Linked DNA regions of Homo sapiens: regions 2, 3, 4, 5 and 6 are each linked to region 1. Evidence: fine-mapped expression QTL. A gene starts in region 1. Each other region holds a variant in brackets. All regions are shown on one strand. Distances are from middle to middle. Region 1 holds the start of ERV3-1 (endogenous retrovirus group 3 member 1, envelope). Region 2 has its middle 15 kb from the start of SNORA15B-1. Region 3 overlaps LOC124901661 (a long non-coding RNA gene). Region 4 has its middle 16 kb from the start of SNORA22C. Region 5 has its middle 45 kb from the start of ZNF273. Region 6 has its middle 49 kb from the start of ZNF138.

Region 1 (4,092 bases):
GCCCCACTCCTGTCTCTCTGTCTGTGTGATTCCCAGTTATTCCCATTCCCCCAACAGATAAACCTCCCAATGGATTCAATGCATACACTTTTATTAAATCTCACTCTGTCACCCAGGCTGGAGTGCAGTGGCATGATCTTGGCTCACTGCAAGCTCCGCTTTACAGGTTCAAGCGATTCTCTTCAGCCTCCTGAGTAGCTGGGACTACAGGCATGCACCACCAGACCTGGCTAATTTTTTTGTATTTTTAGCAGAAATGGGGTTTCACCATGTTGGTCAGGCTGATCATGAACTCCTGACCTCAAATAACCCACCTGCCTCGGCCTCCCAAAGTGCTGGGATCACCTGCCCCAGCCTCCCAAAGTGCTGGGATCACCTGCCCACTCCCTTGGTGAGGAGCCCCCTAGGGCACCTCCACCTCCTAGAGCACAAATGTTGTTGAGATGAGCAGCTTGAGACATGGTATGGACCTATGCGGAGGTGTCCCTAGACAATGATGGCATCAGAGTGAGAGGCTGGATGAGGATGTGTCTGGGGGAGCTTCGAGGTGCTGTGATATGTAAGAGATCATTAATTACAGGATGCCACCCCAAGGAGAATATGCATGGACCAAAGATGAGGGGTCCCCAGGAGGGTAAACCAATAGTAATGCCCCCAGATTCCATTCCTAGCCAGGCTCCCTGCTAAGTGACAATTAGAAAAATTCCTCTTTACAGAAAACAGAGCATCAATTAGGTCCCCAACTACAGAGCCAGTCCTCTACCCTCCAGTGAAACTTCCAGTGGGCAAGAAAAGCTTGGGAAAGCCAGAAGGAATAGGAACCACAGCTCAGGCCGGGCCGAGGCTTCATAAATCAAAAGGACATTTTTTTTTTAAGAGATAAGGTCTCACTCCATCACCCAGGCTGGTGTGCAGTGACCCAATCATGCCTCACTGTAGCCTTGAACTCGTGAGCTCAAGTTATCCTCCCAGCTCAGCCTCCTGAGTAGCTGGGACCACAGGTGCACACCAACACGCCTTGCTAACTTTTATTTTTATTTTTGAGACACAGTCTCGCTCTGTCACCCAGGCTGGAGTGCAATGGTGCGTTCTTGGCTCACTGCAACCTCCACCTCCTGGGTTCAAGTGACCCTCCTGCCTCAGCCTCCCAAGTAGCTGGAATTACAGGTGCACGCCACCAGGCCCAGCTAATTTTTGTATTTTTATAGAGACAGGGTTTCACCATGTTGGCCAGGCTGGTCTTGAACTCCTGACCTCAGGTGATCCGCCCACCTCAGCCTCCCAAAGTGCTGAGATTACAGGCGTGAGCCACCGTACCCAGCCCATGGCTAATTTTTAAACTTTTTTGTAGAGATGGAGTCTCACTATGTTGCCCAGGCTGGTCTCAAGCTCCTGGCTTCAAGCAGTCCTCCCACCTCAGCCTCCCAAAGTGCTGGGATTACAGGCATGAGCCACCATGCCCAGCCGCAGAAGGGCAATTATTACACAGTGACAGTGGAAGGAACAGAGACACAGTCGGTGGATGGTGGGAAGATAAGAACATTCACTCTGAGGGCTTCTAGTAACGTTGGAGAAGTGAGCATCAGCTTAGCAGAAGGGAGGGAGGGAAGGAAGCACAGGAGGTTTGAGGAGAGAGAGAGAGGAAGTATGAAATCAGAGCTGCACTTCAATGTGGTGGCTATTGGCCATGTGTGGCTACAGGATAGCTGGAATATGGCTGGTCTGAACTGCGATGTGCTAGAAAGGTAAAATACAGGGTTAGATTTAAAGATTTAGTTCCAAGAATATATACACTACATTAATAATTACATATTGCTCCTATACTAAAATAATATTTTGGATATATTGGGTTATTAAATGGTTAGAATGAATTTCACCTGTTTCTTCTTTCTTCTTAACTACTAGAAAATTTAGAATTCACACATGGCTCACATTTTATTTCAGACGGTTGCCTTACAAGGCAAATGCCGTCTGGGGAGGGCCTGGGTCAGCTCAGGGAGGAAGCTCTGCCTGAAAAGGCTTAGGGTTCACTCTACATTCAGCCCAGCATCTGAGCACGTCTTCTGTCAATCAAGGCCTGAGAGGGTGGGGCCCTAAACATTATCCAATCAGGGACGCTGGGCTGGGACCCGTCCAATCAGGCACTCAGCTGGAGCAGACAGGACGGCTTCCGGGTTTGGTGGGGCCTTTGTCTCTGGCGGCAGCCGGAGCTTCTGGTGTAGTCTTCACTGCTCTGTGTCTTCTGCTCCTAGAGGCCCAGCTTCTGTGGCCTCGTTACCTGCAGGTATTGGGAGATCCACAGCTAAGACGCCAGGACCCACTGGAAGCCTAGAAATGGTGAGAGTGCCGGGTCCGACATCCCGAGAGAGGGGGCGGGGCTGGTTGGAACTGGTGGGAAGTGGCTGTGGCGGGACTCTGGCCTCCCCGCAGCTGGCTCCAAAATCCGCGGCCCCGAGTTCTCCTTGGCGCAGCTCGGCCCTCAGTCCCCTTCAGCCATAGGATGGCGGCCGGGCTGACAGCTCGGACCCCGGGCATCCTGTCTCCTCCCTGCGCAGTGACTGTGCCTTGTTCTGGAGTCCTCTGTGGGCAGCTCTGCCCCCACTGCCGCAGCTCTCCCCGATTGTGCAGGGACCACTGGACGGTCGTCAGGGGAGAATACTGACTCAGGATGCAGAGTTCATGAATGGGAAGAGCTTTGGTCTGCGGGGTTCCCAGTCCCCCTTTTTTTCTATTAAAAATTTGTGGAAGTCTCCGCAGAAATATTAAAGAATTTAATTAAAGAGTAATTCAAGAATTGTAGAGCACCAAGCTATGTTTTGTAGTTTGTGGTTTATGGAAGGGGCTTGAAGAAAACACTTTTATAAAGTGCATGATAAAGGAAAGCAAATTCAATAATTGGTTAGGTAAAGTTATGTAGTTTCTTAATTTGTACGATCAAGGTGGAAATTCCCTGGTCATGTAATGAGAGGTTAATTGGCAGTTTATAGTTGGTTAAGCCTGAATTTTATTTTCCCCCAATGTAATACTTTAGAAAAAAATCATTCGAGTTAGATTTTTTTGCAAGTAGCAACCCTAGGACTGGAGCCACCTCAGTCTAATTGCCTGCCACTTAATTATTTTCACACTCCACAGGGCACTGATTTTCCTCTGCATTTTTCACTTCTGTCTCAAGCAGGGTCTCAAGACTTCTCCCCATTTCCCATTCCTCCAGCCTAACTCTGGCTTGCAGTAAAATACTAAATTTCCAGTTCCTTCTGACATTCCCAAATGCCAATTTCCCCTCCCTAATTCACATTATCAACTATTTGTCCTTTAATGTACACTTTAGTGTACATTTTAGGTACCATATTTTAATTAATCATTTTTTGACAAAGCATTGGCTGGCATTTTAAAAAAGATTTGTTTTCTGTTTGTAAAGATTTCCCAAGAGAAGAAAGCAAAGAATAATCCCCTGACACTGTATTGTAAAAAATGTTCTGTGCCTCCTTTCCTTTTATTGCCTCTAGCCACAGAAACCTTATCAGAATATTTTTGGGTCAGGGTTTCCCTTTGGAAACTTTATAAGGTAATGTGTCCTCAGCCACCCTTCAGTTTTTTCCCTGGTTCTGGGTTTCAGTACTGTCTGGGGATAAATCAAGATATCCACTGTGGCTGTGTATGCTACAATGTCTAGTAAATTTCAGCTCCTGGCCTGGAATGAAACTTCGCATATCTGGGAATGGGAGACAGGACAGCCTGAAGTTGGAGTGTAGCCTCTCAAGGGAGCAGGTGGATGCCCTGAGGCTGAGAGGAGTCTCCTGGGGTACTCTTCCTTTGAAAAGCAAACCCTTAGAGAAGTTAAGATTGTCTTCAAGCAACCCGGGTTCCATTTCTCGAAGACACATTGCTGGTCAGCCAATCAGATGGTGGTAATGAGGGAAAAACAAATAATTACTGCCACCTGGATTCTCCAAGAATTATGAAAGAGAAAATAGTATCCCAAAAGACAAAAAAAAAAAAAAAAAAAAAATCAAACCTGGCCCCAGTGAGATGGTGCAGCAACTTGCAAAGTGAAATGCACCTTGGGGCACTCAATGGGGCCTAGTACAGTGT
Region 2 (4,092 bases), 79 kb before region 1:
TCTGAAAACTGAGCAAAAGTTGATTCTCAATAATATGTCCCTATGTCAGAGCAGCACTAATATATAATGACTTATTTCCTATATTTTACATACTAACAGTCCATATCATTTTACTGCTTTCGAAAACATTTTTCCCTTTTTTGGTGGTTCTTAGAATTAGTTTAATAGGAGACTACAAGAGAAGTTTTAAAGTTTAATGCCTCTTTTTAGCCTTTAATTTCTGAAAAGCAGGAGGGCAGAAAAGATCAATCAAATTAAACACGACAACAGGGAGGCCACAATGAGGAGGTCTCCAGAGGCCTTTTCGCAAACTTCCTAAAACATGTCTCAGCTGTGTGGAAATAAGGCTTTACAGCAGCTGGGTGCAGTGGTGCAGGCCTGTAATCCTAGCACTTTGAGAGCAGAGGTGGGCAGATCACTTCGAGCTCCGGGCAACAAAGCAAAATCCCCCCTCCCCTCCCCAACCCCCTGCCTCCGCCCCCGTCTATACCAAAAATACAAAACTTAGCCAGACATGGTGGCAGGTGCCTGTAGTCCCAGCTACTCAGGAGGTTGAGGCAGGAGAATCACTTGAACCCAGGAGGCGGACGTTTCAGTGAGCCGAGGCCGTGCCACTGCCAGCCTGGGTGACAGAGCAAGACTCTGTCTCAAAAAAGAAAAAAAAAAAAAAAAAAGATTAAGTAAGAGGGACACCAGACCTTAAAAATACAAGTTTAAGAGGGACCCTGACTCAGCGTGGTGGCTCATGCCTGGGACTTTGGGAGGCCGAGGCAGGCGGATCACGAAGTCAAGAGATCTAGACCATCCTGGCCAACATGGTGAAACCCTATCTCTACTAAAAATACAAAAAATTAGCTGAGAGTGGTAGGTGCGCACCTGTAGTCCCAGCTACTCAGGAGGCTGAGGCAGGAGAATTGCGTGAACCCAGCAGGCGGAGGTTGCAGTGAGCTGAGGTTGGGCCACTGCACTCCAGCCTGGGCAACAGAGCAAGACTCTATTGAGGCAAGGTTTCTCATTCTCAGGTCCGAGGGGTTCAATAACTGGGCCCTTAGGGAGGTGTGAGCCCCCTGAAACGATGCAAGGTTTTGTGTGGAGAGTGTGCACATGCGTTTCCGGGAAAACAGCCCACAGCTCTCATTCTCAGCAGGCTCCACACTCAAAAAAGGTTAGACTCTTGCTACAGAGCTGTGGGAGCAGCTAGGTGAGGGGCCTGCCAAGGGCACTCTGGGGACTACCTGGGCAGTCTTGAGCCCACCTGGGCAGTCCTGAGCCCACTGTCCCTTAGGTAGGCTGTGCTGCTTGGTATTTGCAGAGCTGAGGGGGTGGGGCATGTGGGACTGTGAAATCGCCTTGAGATGACCCACAGCACTCAGCTGGGAAGTGAGGGGTGTGTATCCTGCAGCATCCTCCATTCCTAGGGCCATGGGGCCAGGAGAACTGGCCCTTGCAGCAAGTGAAAAGCCTAACATTGACTCCCTCCCTGGCCATGTAGACAATGAACCAAAGGCACCCATATCAAGTAAATGCCTTGGTCTCTGTGACCGAGGTGACCAGTAGGCATTCCCAGGTGCAGGGAAGGTCCTGACACCAAGATATGCACCTGGTCACCTGAGGAAAGAGAAAGGACTATCCAAGGGGTTGGGGCTGAGCTGGGTGTGGAGTGGTCCTTGTGGGTCATGGTGAGTGGGAGGGGGAGCAGCATGAGCCAGGCCTCGGGGCAGGAGGACAACCAGGAGACGGCCTGGAAAAAGTGCTGGACCCACGAGGGTTCAAGGCTGGCCAGAGAGGGAGATGGGATAGGCTGGGAAGTCCTGAGGTCTGAAGATTGGCCCTGGCAGGCAGAAACCAGGAAAGGTGGGCAGTTACCTGCACCCTGGGGGCCAGATGCATCCTTAGCCTAGAGCAGGTGCCAAGATTTCTGGCTCTGGGTGTGACCTAAGTCTGGGGAAAAGCCCCAACCCCCACCAGGACCACCTGCCCCCCAAACTACTTCAGATGCTGAGCCCAAGCCAGGAGCAGGAAGCTGGACTGATGCCTAGGGTAATCCCGACAAAGTCCCTGTCTCCCCCCAGCTATGGGGCTGAAGGGGAATTACAGCCCAAACCCCAGATGCTGGCTCTCAAACTAACACTGAGCCCTCAGTGCCCAAAGGGAGACTCAATCAGCA[C/T]ACTTTCCAGATGGGGAAACGGGCTCAGAGAGGTGCAAGAGCCTTGCCCAGTGCCCCAGACCAGGACTCTAGGCCCAGAGTGTTCTTTTGTCACTGTGTCCAGAGGGTAGCAGCTGCTCTGATATAGCCACCTGAGCCTGGCAACTTTCTCCAGCTTTGGAAGCCCAGGAGCATGGCCCGTGCCCACAGATGCACCTGGCATGAGGCGCACCCAGAGGGACAGAGGCAGATGAGTTTCGCCTCCTCCACTGGATTGTGAAGGCCTCCAAGGAGACAAGGATCTGCTTGAGAAGGCAGCAGATAGTCAGCAACCTGGGGTGGTTTAACTCTGGATGGATCTGCAGTGCCTGGATGGGACCTGGCTCAGACAGAGCTCAGTTCTGCAGGTCACTGAGGCATGGAAAGGTCACAGCTACCAAGTGTAGGAGTCTGGATTCAAAGCCAACAGCGTGACTCCAAAATCCCTGCCCTAGCCCCTGGACCACCCACCTCTCGGAGTCACCCTTGCAAGCTCATCAGATGTTCAGGCCAGCAGCACAACCAGCCAGGGCCAGGGAAACTTGGGGAGCCTCATTCCAACATAATCCTTGCACCCTTGCCCCTCACCATCTTTCTTCCTGCGTTAACCTCACCCCCTACACAGAGCCTGGGCCACTTAACTTGGCATCAAACAGATGCCTCAATAAATCAGAGTCTGATCTTCTCGAAAAAAAAAAAAAAGACTTAACAGATATACAGTTGCAAGTTAGAATGTTAAAGAACATAAACATACAACAACTTAATGTACATATAAATTCAATATGTAGCCAATCATTGTGACTATGACACAACAGAATATTAACATACTATTTTCAAAATGTATACAAGCTTAATGATCTATTTATATTCAAAATATGAATCATCAACATAATTTGCCATTAATATCTCATTCAGTCCCTTCACAGGACACATGATCCACTGGGAGTTAACACAATAGCAGCTGGCAGGCAGTGACACACAGCAAAAACGAAAACCAACAGGTGAAATAGTTCTGAAATAAAGAAAGTTTTAAAGCTAAGAGAAACCATTGAATTACTAAGTCATTAGCACTAATTTTGAGCCAACTAATTAATATGAGATGAAACAACGTCCTATGCTTTGGTAAATTCAAACCATGTTTAAACAATGGCTATAAAGTGACTTTCAAAAAGCTCCTGGCTTTACAAAGGTGAGATTATAACATAGTAATACATGCTAAAGCATTTCCCCCTGCAGATGAGCATGTTGTAACTTTCATCAGCCACATTGAGAGTCCAGAAGATGAGGGAAAAGGTTGTGGATTTCACTGAGAACTTACCAGAGTTGAACTCCCTCACTTTCCATTGCCCATCATTGGCAGGTTCCGGAACTGCCCATCATTGGCAGGCTCCGGAACAGGCTGTGTGTCACTGCCTGCCAGCTGTGGTAGTTCGTTGGTCTTTGGTCTCTTAGAAGGTGGAGAATCATCATCATGTTGAAAAAGAAAATGGTCATTAATGAAGGAACAATCCTAGGTTACAGCCACCTCCTGGTCAATTCCCAACATTCAAAAGGTGAGCAGCTTTAAAGCTATTTTGAATATTAATAATTATTCCTGTACTATGATCTTTAGCATGCCTTTTTCTAGTTACATTTGAAATTTTATTCTTTTGGGATGTGCTCAAGTGAATACTGCTTTATCCTCTGTCTTGCTTCATTACTTTTTAGTTTGCTTCATTTGAATCATCATTATAAATCTTCCCTTGCCCTCAAGTAACTCTGAAATTGCTGCCAATAACTATATTGTTTTAAGGCTTTTCAGAAAAAACTTTCAACAAAGACAGTCACCTGAAGTTATACAAATATAGAAGAAAGGGAATATAATTAAGCTTAGATTGGAAAAAATATTTAAGCTTATACAAAATTCA
Region 3 (4,092 bases), 220 kb before region 1:
ATATATGATATGTATTTATATAATATATAAATATATATGTATTTATATAATATATAAATATACAATATGTATATAATATAGAAATACAATATACAATATGTATATACTATATAAATATAATATACAATATGTATATATTATAGAAATATATACAATATGTATTTATGTTATATAATATATATGTATTTATGTTATATAATATATATGTATTTGTTATATAAATGTAATATATATGTATTTATATGTTATATAAATATAATATATAATATGTATTTATGTTATATAAATATAATATATAATATGTATTTATATGTCATATAAATATAATATATATGTATTTATGTTATATAAATATAAGTATTTATATAATATATAAATATAATATATATGTATTTATATAATAAATATAATATATAATATATAATATGTATTTATATAATATACAAATATAATATGTGAATATAATATATGAATATAATATATAAATATAATATATAAATATAATATATTTATATAATATATATAAAAATATATATTACATATTATATATATTTATATATAATTGAAAAAAAGTTGGTATAGATGTGATGAAAAGGAACACTTTTCCACTGCTGATGTGAATGTTAACTGGTGCAATAAATATGGAGAACAGCATGGCGATTCCTTAAAGAACTAAAAGTTGGACTACCATTTGATCCAGCAATCTCAGTACTGGGTATCTACACAGAGGAAAATAAGTCATTATATGAAAAAGACACTTGCACACGCATGTTTATAACAGCGCAATTTGCAATAGTAAAAATATGGAAACAGCCTAAATGCCCATCAACCGACTGGATAAAGAAAATAGGGTATATGTATATATACTATGGAATACTACCCAGCCATGAAAAGGAAGAAAACGATGGCACTCACAGCAATCTAGATAAAGTTGGAGATCATTATGCTAAGTGAAGTAACTCAGGAATGGAAAACCAAGCGTTGTATGTTCTCACTTTTTAGTGGGGGCTAAACTAGAGGATGTAAAGGCATAAGAATTATGTAACATAATGGACTCTGGAAACTTGGGGAAAGGGCGGGGGGTGGTGAGGGATAAAAGACTACACATTGGGTACAGCATACACTGCTGGGGAGATGATGCACCAAAATCTCACAAATCACCACAAAAGAACTTATTCATGTAACCAAACACCACCTCTTTTGAAATAATAATGATAAAAACAAAAAACACAAACAACTCCCTAAGTTTAAGTTTATATGTTTTGGCCAATTTTTTTTTTTTTTCCCAGAAAGGATCTCCCTCTGTCACCCAGGATGGAGTGTAGTAGCTTGATCATGGCTTGCTGCAGCCTCAGCCTTCCGGGCTCAGGCAATTCTCCTTCCTCAGCCTCCTGAATAGTTGGTATTACAGGTGCAGGCCACCATGCCCAAATAATTTTTGTATTATGTGTAGACATATGGTTTTGCCATGTTGCTCAGGCTGGTCTCATATTCCTGGATTTAAACAGTCTTTATGTCTTGGCTTTTTAAAGTGCTAGGATTGCAAGCATGAGCTACCATGCATGACTAGAATCTTATTTTTACATGATATAGAAAAGTTAAATATATTTAGATCTGTTAGTTAACAGAAAATTTGAGAAAATATTTTTATTAAAATACAAAATGGTTTTTATCTAAAAATAATGGTACAAAACATTCAAAATTACTTCCTGGAAATTTCACTAAAAATTTGGTTGCTCAGAGTTAATGTAATTAATATGTATATTTAAAACTACTAGATTTAAGGAATAACAATTTGGTATAGAGAGTGTATAAACAAAAACAAAGCATGCTTTCATGAAGAAAGTTAGAAACATTTTGTCTAGTTTGAAATTACTTAAAGGTTGTCTCAAATTGAAAAAATAAGATGAATGTAGATTAAAATATTAGAAGTTAAAAATATTATAAAATATGTACAGAAATCTAGAGTGGACAAAAATAATATATTTGATGGATTTATTTTTAAAGTTTCACCAAAATTAACTTTAGTATTGATAATATACTAATACAAAAGTAAAAGCTGATTTTCTTTTGAACAAAATTTTATGTATTATTATTAATATGACACAGTAATGTATTTTTGTTTACCTTTTGAATAAATTTTAAAAGAGAGGTAGAATTTTTCTCATACTGCCTTTTTTCAGATTTTTGATTGAAAAACTTAATCTCCTGCATCAAACAGTAAAATGTTTTGTTTTTAAAAATCTTTTAATCATCACTTTGGCTAAATGAATGACTATTATTTTACGGTGACCTGTGATCCTATTTTGGTCAAGTATTTTAACCCTCTGACATATTTG[A/G]CAGTCTTTCTAAAATCAAATTTCAGCTTAAAAATTGTCTTTTTGTGGCCGGGCATGGTGGCTGACACCTGTAATCCCAGCACTTTGGAAGGCCGAGATGGGTGGATCTCCTGAGGTCAGGAGTTTGAGACCAGCCTGGGCAACATGGTAAAACCCCATCTCTACTAAAAATACAAAAAATTAGCTGGTCATGGTGACAAACACCTGTAATCCCAGCTACTCAGGAGGCTAGGGCAGGAAAATTACTTGAAACTAGGAGGCAGAGGTTGTAGTGACCCAAGATCACGCCACTGCACTCCAGCCTCGGCAACAAGAGTGAAATTGTTTAAAAAAGACTTTTTTTTTTTTTTTGACAAAGTCTTGCTCTGTTGCCCAGGCCGGAGTACAGTGGCCTGATCTCAGCTCACTGCAGCCTCCACCTCCTGGGTTCAAGAGATTCTCCTGCCTCAGCCTCCCAAGTAGTTGGGATTACAGACGTGTGCCACCATGACCGGCTAATTTTTGTACTTTTAGTAGAGATGGCGTTTCACCATGTTGGCCAGGCCAGTCTCGAACTTCTGACCTCGAGTGATCCGCTGGCCTCGGCCTCCCCAAGTACTGGGATTACAGGCATGAGCCACGATGCCCAACCTTAAAATTATTGGTTTTTGACCCCTAACTTTTAGATGCTACAGAGAGCCAATGCAACATCCAAGAGAGTGATAAACAGGATTATTTGATATGTTAAATTGCATGGGAAGCACGGTCAAATTAAAAATGATGTTTGGGTCAGGCGCGGTGGCTCACACCTGTAATCCTAGCACTTTGGGAGGCTGAGGCAGGTGGATCACAAGGTCAGGAGTTCGTGACCAGCCTGGCCAACATGATGAAACCCCGTCTCTATCAAAGATACAAAAAATTACCTGGACATGGTGGCACATGCCTGTAAATCCCAGCTACTTGGGAGGCTGAGCCAGGAGAATCACTTGAACCCAGGAGGTGGAGGTTGCAGTGAGCCGAGAGCATGCCATTGCACTCCAGCCTGGGCGATAGGGTGAGACTCGATCTCAAAAAAAAAAAAAATGATGTTTGACCTCCTTCAACTTATATTTTAATGAATATGTTATTAATATTTATTCCAAAATTTTATAGAATTTCTAAAAATCTAATATATATCTCTTTATATGCTATTAGTCATAATTATGTTTATTATGAACAAATATAGGCAACAGATATAATCAATTTTTTATTTGTTTTTTCATAACCATTTAAGTAATTTTCACAGTTAATGGTTTAATTCTTATTTAGTTTCTAAAAACCTCAAAAGCACACAAAATCCCAGAGTATTGTGTCTTTAGGAGGTTCATGAAAAGATGGAAAGTGACCAGACAAGTTGAGTCCTGTTTCTGATAATTTTAGGATCATATTGTTTGAACTGGGTAAGGATCATGAGCATTCCCATGAAAAGACGGATTCATAAAACTGTGAGCCCAGGCAAGACAAAAATTAATTGAATATCAGAAAAATACTCTGCCACATTTTTACGCTAAATCAGCAAGTACTGAAATTTTTTAAATGTGCTCTTTAAATAAACTCTGTGGTCCAAGTAAAATTACCTATGAGAACCACTCAGTTATCAGTGCTATGCACATAAATTGGAGAAAAAGTCCTGGTATGTAAGACGACATAATTTTTTTTTTTTGGTCTTTTTTTTTTTTGACACAGAGTCTCACGAGTCTCACTTTGTCACCAGGCTGGAGTGCAGTGGCATGAT
Region 4 (4,092 bases), 44 kb before region 1:
AAGAAAAAGAGATCATAATATACTGCCGATTATTACAAGAACCTGAGTATACATATACCATATATCATGATAAAGACTCTTTAGACCAAAAGTAAAGGTGAAAAGAGAAATGAAAACAGGGATAGATGATATAAGGCTTTTCCCTCAACTAATTTACTCTAACACTATCTTTGTAATACATGTGTTTAGAACAAAACAATGCCACAATGAGCATCTAAGTTAAAACCGTTATCAGAGAGGCAATTCCAGAATAAACAGATACAATATGCTCCTTGATGGAAAGACCTGCTAGTGAGAACTGACTCCTTCCCATATTCGTCTATAAATTTAGCACAATTCTAATCAAAATCTCAGTGGGATTTGTCTTAGAACTCATCAAAATTATTCTAAAATTCACCGGAAACAGTAAATTCATGACAATAGCAAAGAAAAATTTGGAAATGAGCATATTTGCCCTATCAGATATCAAACTTCTATAAAAAGCCACGGGGGAGGGGTGGTAATGGAATAAACACAGACCGACCTGTCACTGGAACAGAACTGAGAATCCAGAAAGAGGCCTTATGTATGCAGAAAAGCCTTGTGGCATTTGAAATATGAACAAGTCAATGAACTGAGAGAGGCAAAAGCCTATCCATTTAGGAAAAATTTAGATCCCTACCCTTACACTAGATACAAAAGGAAATTCCATACAAACTAAAAGAGCTCAGTGTGAAAAAAATTTTTTCATATAAAGTATATGAAAATATTTTAAAGATAATCTTGGGATGGTAGAGATTTTGCTAAACCAGAAAAAAAAAAAAACTATAAATATGTGAAAGATTTTCCAGTTGAATAATGAAGAATTTTTTTAAGTGAAAGATCTGACCACCTAAGTTAACACTTCTATGTAAAGACACCATAACACAAAATTAAAAGACAAATAACAAATGAAGAGAAAATGTGTAACACATATAACAAAAGATTAACCATTGTGACATCTAAAGAACTCCTATAAAGCAATAAGAAGAAAAGATAAACAACCCAGAAAGGGAAAAAATGGGCAAAGGTATGAACAGGCAATATCCAGAAGAAATGCAAAATTTTTGTCTGTACAAAAATTATGTTGTAGATTCATGTAACACCCAGTAAACTACATTCTAGGAGGTTAAAGAAGTCATGTTTTTCAGAACTAACAAATTACATATATTTACACAATATCAGAATGGGAAGTGCCTGTCTGAACTTGAATCTACAGACAAAAATTACCAAGAAAAATCATTAAAATTATCATAGACTTAAAAAAACCTTTGTACTAGCATTCGTCTAAATCGATGTGAAAAATTCTAAAATTTATCCAGGCAGGAGAAGAAACACAGTTAATAAAAACATGAAAACCTCATTATCAAACAAGGTGATTATAAATTAAAAAATAAATTTTTTAAATGTGAAACCATTAAATCTTGCTGATGCTTGGGGAAAATGCAAATCAAAACAATAACATGACAATTTTCATAAATCATATTGGCAAATATCTAAAAAATGAGAATGCCCAATTTGGCAAGGGCACAGGGCACCCAATATTCTCTTCCATTACTGGTGGAATTTTTAACAACATGGGAAAATAGTGGTAATATTTTCTTTTTTTTTGAGACAGTCTCACTCTGTCGCCCAGGCTGAAGTACAATGGCATGATCTCGGCTCACTGCAACTTCTGCCTCCCCAGTTCAAGCAATTCTCCTGCCTCAGCCTCCCAAGTAGCTGGGACCATCAGTGTGCATTACCATGCCCAGCTAATTTTTGTATTTTTAGTAGAGATGGGGTTTCACCACGTTGGCCAGGCTGTAGAGATGGGGTTTCACCACGTTGGCCAGGCTGGTCTCAAACTCCTGACCTCAGATGATCCACCTGCCTCAGCCTCCCAAAGTGCTGGGATTATGGCCACCGTGCCCTGCCGTGATATGTTAAGTGAGGAAAAGACAAATTAAACATACAGGAAGATCTAAACCATGTTCTAAAATAATAGTAACTATGTTTTATGAGTACCTTTATGCCAGACACCAGGACTATTTACATGTACTGGTACACTTCATATTCACAATAATCCTATGAGTTAA[C/G]GCTATTACTACCCTCATTTTATGGAGGAAGAAGCTGAGACAAGAGATCAAGTGACAGAGCCAAGATTTCAACTCAGGTTGACTCTAGAGTCCCAGATCTTAACCACTGGCACAATGTATAGAAATTAATCAAACTCTTTAAACACAGTGGAATTGAGTATACTGTCTACTTTAATTCCCGATTTTGTCATATATATTCTACTATTTTACTTCTCAAATACAACGAGTTTTTAAAAGGATCGGTAATCACAAGACAGCCAACAGTGTCCCTGAAATTCCCCTAGAGATGCTAACTACAAAATAAAACTTATGAATCATAATTCAATAGCTTTAAATATTGTAGTACAAGAACATTTTTCTAAATGAAATTTTATGTGCATCTATAACATAAGAAACAGATTAGGCTGGGTGTGGTGGCTTGCACCTGTAATCCCAGCACTTTGGGAGGCTGAGGAGGGCAGATTACGAGGTCAGGAGGTCGACACCAGCCTGGCCAACATGGTGAAACCCCATCTCTACTAAAAATACAAAAATTAGCAGGGTTTGGTGGCAGGTGCCTGTAATCCCAGCTACTCGGGAGCCTGAGGCAGGAGAATCACTTGAAGCTGGAAGGCAGAGGTTGCAGTGAGCTGAGATCCTGCCACTGCACTCCAGCCTGGGTTAAAGAGTGAAACTCCATCTCAAAAAACAAACAAAAAAAGAATAAAGCAGTATTTTATTCTATCAATGTATTTCAAAGCTCAAACGTGGCCGGGTGTGGTGGCTCATGCCGGTAATTCCAGCACTTTGGGAGGCCAAGGCGGGGGGTGGATCATTTGAGGTCAGGAGTTCGAGACGAGCCTGACCAACATGGTGAAACCCCATCTCTAGTAAAAACATACACACAAAAAAAAGCCAGGCATGGTGGCACGTGCCTGTAGTTCCAGCTACTCAGGAGGCTGAAGCAGGAAAATCACTTGAAGCTGGGAGGTGGAGGTTGCATTGAGCCGAGATGGCACCACTGCATGCATTCCAGCCTGGGTGACAGAGTGAGACTGCATCTCCAAAAAAAAAAAAAAAAAAAAAAAAAAGCTCAAATGTATAACATGTATAATGAGAACAATAAAATTCTTCTGACAAACACCAACTTTAAATTATGGATGATTGGGCAGTCTTATGTCAAATTTGTTTTGATGGCATGGTATCAAGAAAAACCGGATTCACAAAGATGAATAGATGATAAAGCATGTTTTACAAATGATAATGTTTTGTGTGTGTTTTTTAAATAGTACATTAACGCTATCTAAGAATTTAATTACACCTATCCAGAAGTTTTAAAAGTAAAACATTTCTAAATTAATTATGTAATAGTGTTAAGGAATGAATACTTGGTAGTCGTAAACATTTTGGTAAAAAATAAAAACTTTACAATATGTACTAATCCTGATATATGCATTAGGCAGTCATGTTATTGCATAATGCAACAGTTCTAATAGTACTGAATGTGCTTATATAATGTTATATGAACAAACAAGCACTAGCCTAAAATTTCAAAATATCAACATAAAGATACAGTCTTACTAATCAATAACATTTTTATCCTTTCTAACTCTGAGGAAAAAAAAGGAAAGAAAAAATTTTAATTAAAAAATAAAATGGCATTTTAAAAGTTTCATTTCTATATACAAAGTGAGACACTCTATTCCAAGGATTGTTGTCCTGGGTGTAAGCATTATAGATAATTTACATTTTCTTCCTTTTGCTTATTTTCTCTCAAATATTCTAAATGCACTTTTTTGTGTGTGCTTTTTTACTTTTTATTTTATTTTATTTTATTTTTGAGATGGAGTTTCACTCTTGTTGCCCAGGCTGGAGTGCAATGGCGTGATCTTGGCTCACTGCAACCTCCGCCTCCTGGGTTCAAGCAACTCTCCTGCCTCAGCCTCCCGAGTAGCTGAGATTACAGGCATGCACCACCATGCCCGGCTAATTTTGTATTTTTAGTAGAGATGGGGTT
Region 5 (4,092 bases), 150 kb after region 1:
ATGGCCCTAATGTAACTTAGTGTAAGTAAAAACGTAACAGAGGCTGGGGAAGAAGTGGTTGAAGAAAGAAAAAATGTTGATGGAAGTGTACCACGTTTCACTTAGGAGAAATAAGATTTAGTGATTAATTGCACAGAATATTGACTATAATAAATAATAATGCAGTGTATATTTCAAAATTGGTATAAAAATATTTTAAATGTTTTTGCCACAAAAGTATAATAAGTATGTGAGGTGCTGAATTTGTTACTTAGCTTGATTTAAACATTTTACAGCATAAACATAAAAATATGACAGTGTACCCAACAAATACATACTTAGGATGTTATAATTGTATAATTATATTATATTGAGACAGAGTCTTGCTCTGTCACCAGGCTGAAGTGCAGTGGAATGATTTTGGCTCACTGCAACCTCCGCCTCCCGAGTTCAAGCAATTCCCCTGTCTCAGCTTCCTGAGTAGCTGGGATCATAGGTGCGTGCCACCATGCCTGGCTAATTTTTGTATTTTTAGTAGAGATGGGGTTTCACCATGTTGGTCAGGCTGGTCTCAAACTCTTGACCTCGTAATCCACCCACCTTGGCCTGCCAAAGTGCTGGGATTACAGGCGTGAGCCACCGTGCACAGCCAATAATCACTATTTTTATACAGAAAATACAGAGTTTTTTAAAGAGAGAAGAGATTAATTATAGAAGACAGAGACAAGTATAATTTATTGTGATTGGAACTAAATGCTATCAGAAGATTTACTATGTATGTGAAATTCTTTGACAAACTTCATGAACTTCAACTGGCCACAGGAAATCTCATTGTGCTCCTCTTTCTTTTTAAAGACAGAATCAACTTTACTACATTGCAATAATTTTTCTTAGGGTAAAAGTTGGGATTCACAATTATCTCTGGATTAATGGTGAATGTATTTGAAAAATTCTCTGATAGTCCTGACTAATCTTAGTAGGTCTAGTTTGGTTCTTATTGAATTGGATCACCTCATAGTCCCTTAATAAGCCAACTTTAAGAGAAATATACTTTCTGTTTTTTGAGAATTGTTTGAGTCACTGCCTGATGCAAGTAACAGACATAGACATGAACAGGTTACAAAAGATAAATAATGTCCTTAATGTACCTAAAAAAACTTTTTTAAACTGAATCTCTTAGGACTCATCCCATGTAGATGAGTCCAAAAAACACAATAATAACTAATAAAATACAATTTTCTGCAATGGAACATATCTGAGTATCACTAAAAATGACAAAGTTGTCCAGGCGTCGTGGCTCATGCCTGTAATCCCAGCACTTTGGGAGGCTGAGGTGGGTGGTTCACAAGGTCAGGAATTCAAGACCAGCCTGGCCAACATGGTGAAACACCATCTCTACTAAAAATACAAAAATTAGCCAGGTGTGGTGGTGTGTGCCTGTAATCCAGGCTACTTGGGAGGCTGAGACAGAAGAATCATTTGAACCCAGGAGGTGGAGGTGGCAGTGAACTGAGATCACATCACTGCACTAGAAATAAAAAAGAAGATATAAAAAAATGAAAGAGAAAGAAGAAAGCCACAATAGCCAAGATATGGAATCAACCTAAATGTTCATCAACAGTTGAATGAATAAAGAAAATGTGGTATATTTACACAATGGAATGCTATTCAGCCCTTAAAAAGAAGAAAGCCTTGTTATTTGCAAAAAGCTTATTGAACCTGAAGGACATTATGCTAAGTAAAATAAGCCAGCATTGAAAAAAATTTTTAAAAAGATCTCATTTCTATGCAGAGTGTAAAAGAAAATTCAAACTAATAGAAGCAGAGAGTAGAATAATGATTGCCTGCGACAGGGGGTGAAAAAGATTTTGGCCAAACATAATGGGTCTTCCCTACATCTATTACCTTAACAAATGTTATTCTCCTTGTAGTTTTGATTCACTGGGGAACTGAATCATATCCTGAAGACTCAAAACTGAAGGAATAATATATTTGTTAAAGCAATGCAGATTGTATACTGACATTTCAGAGGCTTAGCAAAATAATATATTTTCTTCTCACATTATCCCTTATGGTTTTTTCCTTGATAAAAAGACTTCCCCATGATTTTTTAGTAATCATGTCTTCTTTCATCTTCTATCTGCATCCTCCTCTTTCTTCTGTGAATAAATTAACAAAGAGATGTAGAAA[A/C]GACACATTTGCTTTTTATCCACACATCACTTCCACTCACTATTAGTCAATGTAAGTAGAGCTGAGAATAGCAGTTTTCTGGCAGGACACTTCTCAGCAATAAATAAAACCCTGAAAGAAAAGTGTAGATTTTTCATGAAAAGCTAATGTATTTTAAGCAAAACAAGCATATTCATCAGAAATAAAATGCTTGTGGCAAAATATAGATTCATTTCATTGATTTCTATGGAGCTCGGGTAATATTTGACCAAAAGCTAGGCAATATGCACAGAAAAAGGAATATTTTTTGAAATAAGAATATTGTGAAGTTGTTCTGTCAAAAGAAGTAAAAATATTATGATCTCATACTAATAGTCTCATCTATAGTTCTACAATATCAAACGCTTTTTATTAAAATTTGTATTTTATATAGGTATCCAATTTATATCACCCTCCTTTGCTATTTCAATGCTGTCTCCACTTTATATCAGTGGGAAACAGGCCACCTGGTCCCAGGAAAGCATGTGGTGCTATTGCGACTTTAACGATGATGATGAAAAGCACTTGTTTGGGTGGTACTGATGTGCCACTGTTATTTTGCCCAAAGCACTGTTTTTTTTTAATTCTTCTCTAAATTTACTGATAAAATAAAATTCTTTTTTTTTTTTTTTTTTTTTTTAAATTTATTTTTTTATTGATAATTCTTGGTTGTTTCTCACAGAGGGGGATTTGGCAGGGTCATGGGACAATAGTGGAGGGAAGGTCAGCAGATAAACAAGTGAACAAAGGTCTCTGGTTTTCCTAGGCAGAGGACCCTGCGGCCTTCCGCAGTGTTTGTGTCCCTGATTACTTGAGATTAGGGATTGGTGATGACTCTTAACGAGCATGGTGCCTTCAAGCATCTGTTTAACAAAGCACATCTTGCACCGCCCTTAATCCATTTAACCCTGAGTGGACACAGCACATGTTTCAGAGAGCACAGGGTTGGGGGTAAGGTCACAGATCAACAGGATCCCAAGGCAGAAGAATTTTTCTTAGTGCAGAACAAAATGAAAAGTCTCCCATGTCTACTTCTTTCTACACAGACACAGCAACCATCCGATTTCTCAATCTTTTCCCCACCTTTCCCCCTTTTCTATTCCACAAAACCGCCATTGTCATCATGGCCCGTTCTCAATGAGCTGTTGGGCACACCTCCCAGACGGGGTGGTGGCTGGGCAGAGGGGCTCCTCACTTCCCAGTAGGGGCGGCCGGGCAGAGGCGCCCCTCACCTCCCGGACGGGGCAGCTGGCCGGGCGGGGGGGCTGACCCCCCCCCACCTCCCTCCCAGACGGGGCAGCTGGCCGGGCAGAGGGGCTCCTCACTTCCCAGTAGGGGCGGCCGGGCAGAGGTGCCCCTCACCTCCCGGACGGGCAGCTGGCCGGGCAGGGGGCTGACCCCCCCACCTCCCTCCCAGACTGGGCGGCTGGCCGGGCAAAGGGGCTCCTCACTTCCCAGTAGGGGCGGCCGGGCAGAGGCGCCCCTCACCTCCCAGACGGGGCAGCTGGCCGGGCGGAGGGCTGACCCCCCCACCTCCCTCCCGGACAGGGCGGCTGGCTGGGCGGGGGGCTGACCCCCCCACCTCCCTCCCGGACGGGGCGGCTGGCCGGGCAGAGGGGCTCCTCACTTCCCAGTAGGGGCGGCCGGGCAGAGGCGCCCCTCACCTCCCAGACGGGGCGGCTGGCCGGGCGGAGGGCTGACCCCCCCACCTCCCTCCGGACGGGGCAGCTGGCCAGGCTGAGGGGCTCCTCACTTCCCAGTAGGGGTGGCCGGGCAGAGGCGCCCCTCACCTCCCGGACGGGGCGGCTGGCCGGGCGGGGGGCTGACCCCCGACCTCCCTCCCGGATGGGGCGGCTGGCCGGGCAGGGGCTGACCCCCCCACCTCCCTCCCGGACGGGGTGGCTG
Region 6 (4,092 bases), 260 kb after region 1:
AAGAAGTTATGTTTCAAAAACAATAGTACACCTGTGATTAAATTCTAGTCTTACCTGATGTTTTTCAAATTTTATTGTTTTCTACAGTTTGGATTAAATTCTAATTTTTCTGGCTACAAGTCTCCAAAATAATGTTTTTAACTTTTTGCTTTATATTGTTCTGTTTCCCCATTTTTCCTAATAAGAAATCACTAAAACCCAAGCTGTGCTTTCTTAAAGCCCTGTGAACTAAAGACTAGATGACTTAAACTTCAGAAGAGCAGCAACCTATTTATGCGTGCTTCTGTTGCATACTATTATGTTTCAGAAGGTGCTGCCTCTAAGCCCCCAAAACAGAGAGTGCTATAGGAAACAAATTGACCTCTTCCACTCCAGCGCTGCATTCAGTGCCCCATAACAATGACCCCCTCTCTGCAGGAAGTATCCAGAAGGATTATGACCCCCTCATCTCCCTCCAATTCTTGTGATAAATAAATACACAAGCAAGACAGAAATCATGCATGAATTGACAGTAGGGATTGTGGCAGTCCAGCTCTTACTAATAGAGGCCTCCAAAACAACTGTTTCAGTACTGACTGAGTGGTTCAGTTAAATATTAAAAAATAGTGCCCTGGCTGGGCATGGTGGCTCACACCTGTAATCCCAGCACTTCGGGAGACTGAGGCAGGTGGATCACCTGAGGTTGGGAGTTCGAGACCAGCCTCACCATCATGCAGAAACCCCATCTCTACTAAAAATACAAAATTAGCCAGGCGTGGTGGTGCATGCCTGTAGTCCCAGCTACTCGGGAGGCTGAGGCAGGAGAATCGCTTGATCCTGGGAGGCAGAGGTTGCAGTGAGCAGAGATCATACCATTGCACTCCAGCCTGGGCAACAAGAGTGAACCTCAGCACCCCCACACCCCCCCCCCCACAAAAAAAAACCAGTGCCCTTATACAAAGGCTGGAATGTAACAAAAGCCCACGAAGAGTTTTCCCTAGGCCTTTCCTGGGCCTTACAGCATGACAAAATAATGAAGGAATTCTTAACAGGACCTATGTAGAATTAAATGAGCTTTTTTGTGGGTCTGAAGAAACCCCCAGGCCTCCACAAACAAGTTTACTGGGGGTCTGAAGGAACTACCCTAACCTCCGTGATTCAGCAGGAGACAAGATAAGGGTAATCACCTCAGCACCTGGACCCATTTAGATTAAGTAAATTTACTGAGGTTCCAGAGGAAAGTCTTCAGGACTCAGACATTAGTTATATTAGTGTTAATTTTCCAATGCTTCTGTATTACAATAAATACTTGCTTTACTGAAAGTAGAAATAATCTAGAACAAAAAGTAACAACCATCTCTAAATTGTTAAATTTATGTGAATATTTTGGAGTTGATGTTTTGTGACCTCTTCCTTGACATCCTAGCAAAGATATTTCTGTAAAAGTATATTTCACAAATACACTTTCAAATACAAATTAGTACTATCCATGTTTTGGTTACTTTTGCTTTGCGCTTCCACCTCCATATTATTTTTGATAACAAAGCACAGCAACATGATTTTTCTTTTTTTTCTGAGATGGAGTCTCACCCTGTCGCCCAGACTGGAGTGCAGTGGTGCAATCTCAGCTCACTGCAACCTCTGCCTCCCAGGTTCAAACAATTCTCTTGCCTCAGCCTCCCAAGTAGCTGGGACTACAGGTGTCTGCCACCAC[G/A]CCTGGCTAATTTTTTATATTTTGATAGAGACAGGGTTTCATCATGTTGGCCAGGCTGGTCTTGAACTCCTGACCTTGTGATCCACCCACCTTAGCCTCCCAAAGTGCTGGAATTACAGGCGTGATCCACCGCAGCTGGCCTGCAACATGATTTTTCTAAAGCAGGCCTCATGAATTTCGCCTGGATGTTAACACATTAAAAGGAGGTGAATGCAATTAAAAGGTGTTTAATACATTCCACCAGAAAGGAGAGGCACAGCTGGCCATGCTGGGCCTCACAAAGGCTGTCTCATGCACAGATTGGAAAGCAGAGGTATCAGGGAACTGGGACTTTGTCTTTATGACCATGATGATTGTAAGCAACCAAGCAAGGCTGTCCCTTTGGACACAAAGTAAAATCTTGCATGTTGGGGTCTGTGGTTGGGAAGATGATAATATTTGCATGCTAATAAAAGCTGCCTGAAAAGGAACATGTAAACAACAGTGATTGCTTATCTGCCCCTGTGACTCAGCAGGCTTATGAAACAGTTATAAATAGCAGCTGTCAAATGGCCAACACAATCTAACAACATTTTCAATATAATTTATTACTAGTGGAAATCCTGAATTAATTTATTATTATTTTTGAGATAGAGTCTCGCTCTGTCACCCAGGCTGGAGTTCAGTGGCATGATCTCGGCTCTCTGCAACCTCCGCTTCCCGGGTTTAAGCAATTCTCCTCTCTCAGCCTCCTGAGGAGCTGGGACTACAGGCGCACACCACCACGCCCAGCTAATTTTTGTATTTTCAGTAGAGACAGGGTTTCACCATATTGGTCAGGCTAGTCTTGAACTCCTGACCTATGGTGATCCACCCACCTTGGCCTCCCAAAGTGCTAGGATTACAGGCATGAGCCACCACACCCGGCCCTGAATTCTTTAATTTCTGCAGTTTCCGTTACTTCTTAAGATGCTTTAAATGAATAAAATCTGCCTTAAATGTTGATACCTGATAACTTCTCTCTGGAGGATTTTGAATTGGCCAACTTAATCAAAACTCCAGCTCTTGCCATCTAAGTGCAATTAAATGGAATATTTAAGATTCCTAAGGGGTCAACTATTACACTTTCAACTTCTTTTTAACGATATATTATTTTCCAAAAATTCTTATGACCATTTGAATAGTTTAGCTTTTGCTCCTCTCTTGTGAGCAACAGGATTATATATATTTGGTAAAATGTAATACAGAAAACTTAAAAATTATACTGGACAACCATCAGTAAAATGTATATATCTGGTATAAACAACCTTTTTCCGCAAATTGAATTCTGCATTTTTCTCTTTTCTGATATATATGAGATGCACAAGTATGTTTTTCTCCTGTATGGGCATAAAGAGGTGATTGTCATTTGTATTATCTGCTAAAAGCTTGTGGCAGCTCATGGTATTATTGACCACATGTTCTAATGTCTTTTTGCAGATTTAAATATTATATTGTAGTGTCAATTTAACATTTAGATGTGGGTTAAATCTCTAGATATATTGTAATTAGATTGATTTTTTTTTTTTGAGACAGAGTCTCCCTCCATTGCCCAGGCTGGTGTGCAATGGGGTGATCTTGGCTCACTGCAACCTCCACCTCCAAAGTTCAAATGATTCTCCTGCCTCAGCCTCTCAAGTAGCTGCGATTACAGGCACCTGCCACCACACCCAGGTGTGTGTGTGTGTGTGTGTATTTTTAGTAGAGATGGGGTTTTGCCATGTTGGCCAGCCTGTTCTCAAACTCCTGACCTCAGGTGATCCACCCACCTTGGCCTTCCAAAGTGCTGGGATTATAGGTGTGAGCCACCATGCCTGGCGTAATTAAATTGATTTTTTTGTAATGGTGATTGTCCTGGTAAATCAATATAAAATAAAAATTATACACCTTTAAAAGATAGTTATTTACAATTGCTTAGAGTTTACCTGGTCAGCCGAGGCCTATCTTCTTCAAGACTTTGCTGAAATTGCACCTGCTCAGTTACAGTCTCTCTGTACAGTCAGAAAAATAATCCTGACTGAGAATGGCTAAGAAAAGAATGAAAAAATTTTGGCAGAGGAATCCTACATGTAAAGAAACAGTTGTGGAAAAGAAAATAATGTTCAGAGATGTGTTTTACTGCAGTTATTTTTTATTTTCATTTTATTTATTTATTTATTTTTTGAGACTGAGTCTTTCTCTGTCACTCAGGCTGGAGTGCAGTGGTGCTATCTTGGCTCACTGCAACCTCTACCTCCTGGGTTCAACCGATTCTCCTGCCTCAGCCTGCTGAGTAGCTTGGACTACAGATGCACGCCACTACGCCTGGCTAATTTTTGTATTTTTAGAGAAACAGGGTTTCACCATATTGGCCAGGCTAGTCTCGAAATCCTGACCTCACG

What was found. PIP is the estimated chance that this variant, and not a neighbour inherited with it, causes the effect. A credible set is the group of variants that fine-mapping cannot tell apart.
Region 2: its variant is the best candidate, but not a certain one, in a credible set for the expression of ERV3-1 in whole blood (INTERVAL, PIP 0.83).
Region 3: its variant is the best candidate, but not a certain one, in a credible set for the expression of ERV3-1 in monocytes (BLUEPRINT, PIP 0.88).
Region 4: its variant is the best candidate, but not a certain one, in a credible set for the expression of ERV3-1 in anterior cingulate cortex (GTEx, PIP 0.65).
Region 5: its variant is the best candidate, but not a certain one, in a credible set for the expression of ERV3-1 in whole blood (INTERVAL, PIP 0.71).
Region 6: its variant is the best candidate, but not a certain one, in a credible set for the expression of ERV3-1 in whole blood (INTERVAL, PIP 0.63).

Annotation. Positions count from the first base shown.
Region 1 is chr7:65,004,786-65,008,877 of GRCh38, reverse strand. ERV3-1 (endogenous retrovirus group 3 member 1, envelope) reads left to right here and starts at 2,191. Exons shown (of 2, transcript NM_001007253.4): 1 at 2,191-2,337. ERV3-1-ZNF117 (ERV3-1-ZNF117 readthrough) reads left to right here and starts at 2,132. Exons shown (of 4, transcript NM_001348050.2): 1 at 2,132-2,337. It overlaps LOC105375330 (a long non-coding RNA gene), which reads left to right. Exons shown (of 6, transcript XR_927607.1): 6 at 167-204. RefSeq lists a silencer at 1,931-2,100 and an enhancer at 2,201-2,260.
Region 2 is chr7:65,083,669-65,087,760 of GRCh38, reverse strand. It overlaps the pseudogene GTF2IP14. Among named protein-coding and RNA genes, the nearest start is that of SNORA15B-1, 15 kb to the right of the region's middle. The variant C/T (reference allele first, on the strand shown) is at 2,168.
Region 3 is chr7:65,222,637-65,226,728 of GRCh38, reverse strand. All of the region lies in intron 1 of LOC124901661 (a long non-coding RNA gene), which reads left to right. It also overlaps the pseudogene INTS4P1. Among named protein-coding and RNA genes, the nearest start is that of ZNF92, 150 kb to the left of the region's middle. The variant A/G (reference allele first, on the strand shown) is at 2,340.
Region 4 is chr7:65,048,290-65,052,381 of GRCh38, reverse strand. It overlaps the pseudogene CCT6P3. Among named protein-coding and RNA genes, the nearest start is that of SNORA22C, 16 kb to the left of the region's middle. The variant C/G (reference allele first, on the strand shown) is at 2,097.
Region 5 is chr7:64,856,395-64,860,486 of GRCh38, reverse strand. It overlaps a transcript of ZNF138 not described here. Among named protein-coding and RNA genes, the nearest start is that of ZNF273, 45 kb to the left of the region's middle. The variant A/C (reference allele first, on the strand shown) is at 2,170.
Region 6 is chr7:64,743,006-64,747,097 of GRCh38, reverse strand. No RefSeq gene overlaps it. Among named protein-coding and RNA genes, the nearest start is that of ZNF138, 49 kb to the left of the region's middle. The variant G/A (reference allele first, on the strand shown) is at 1,694.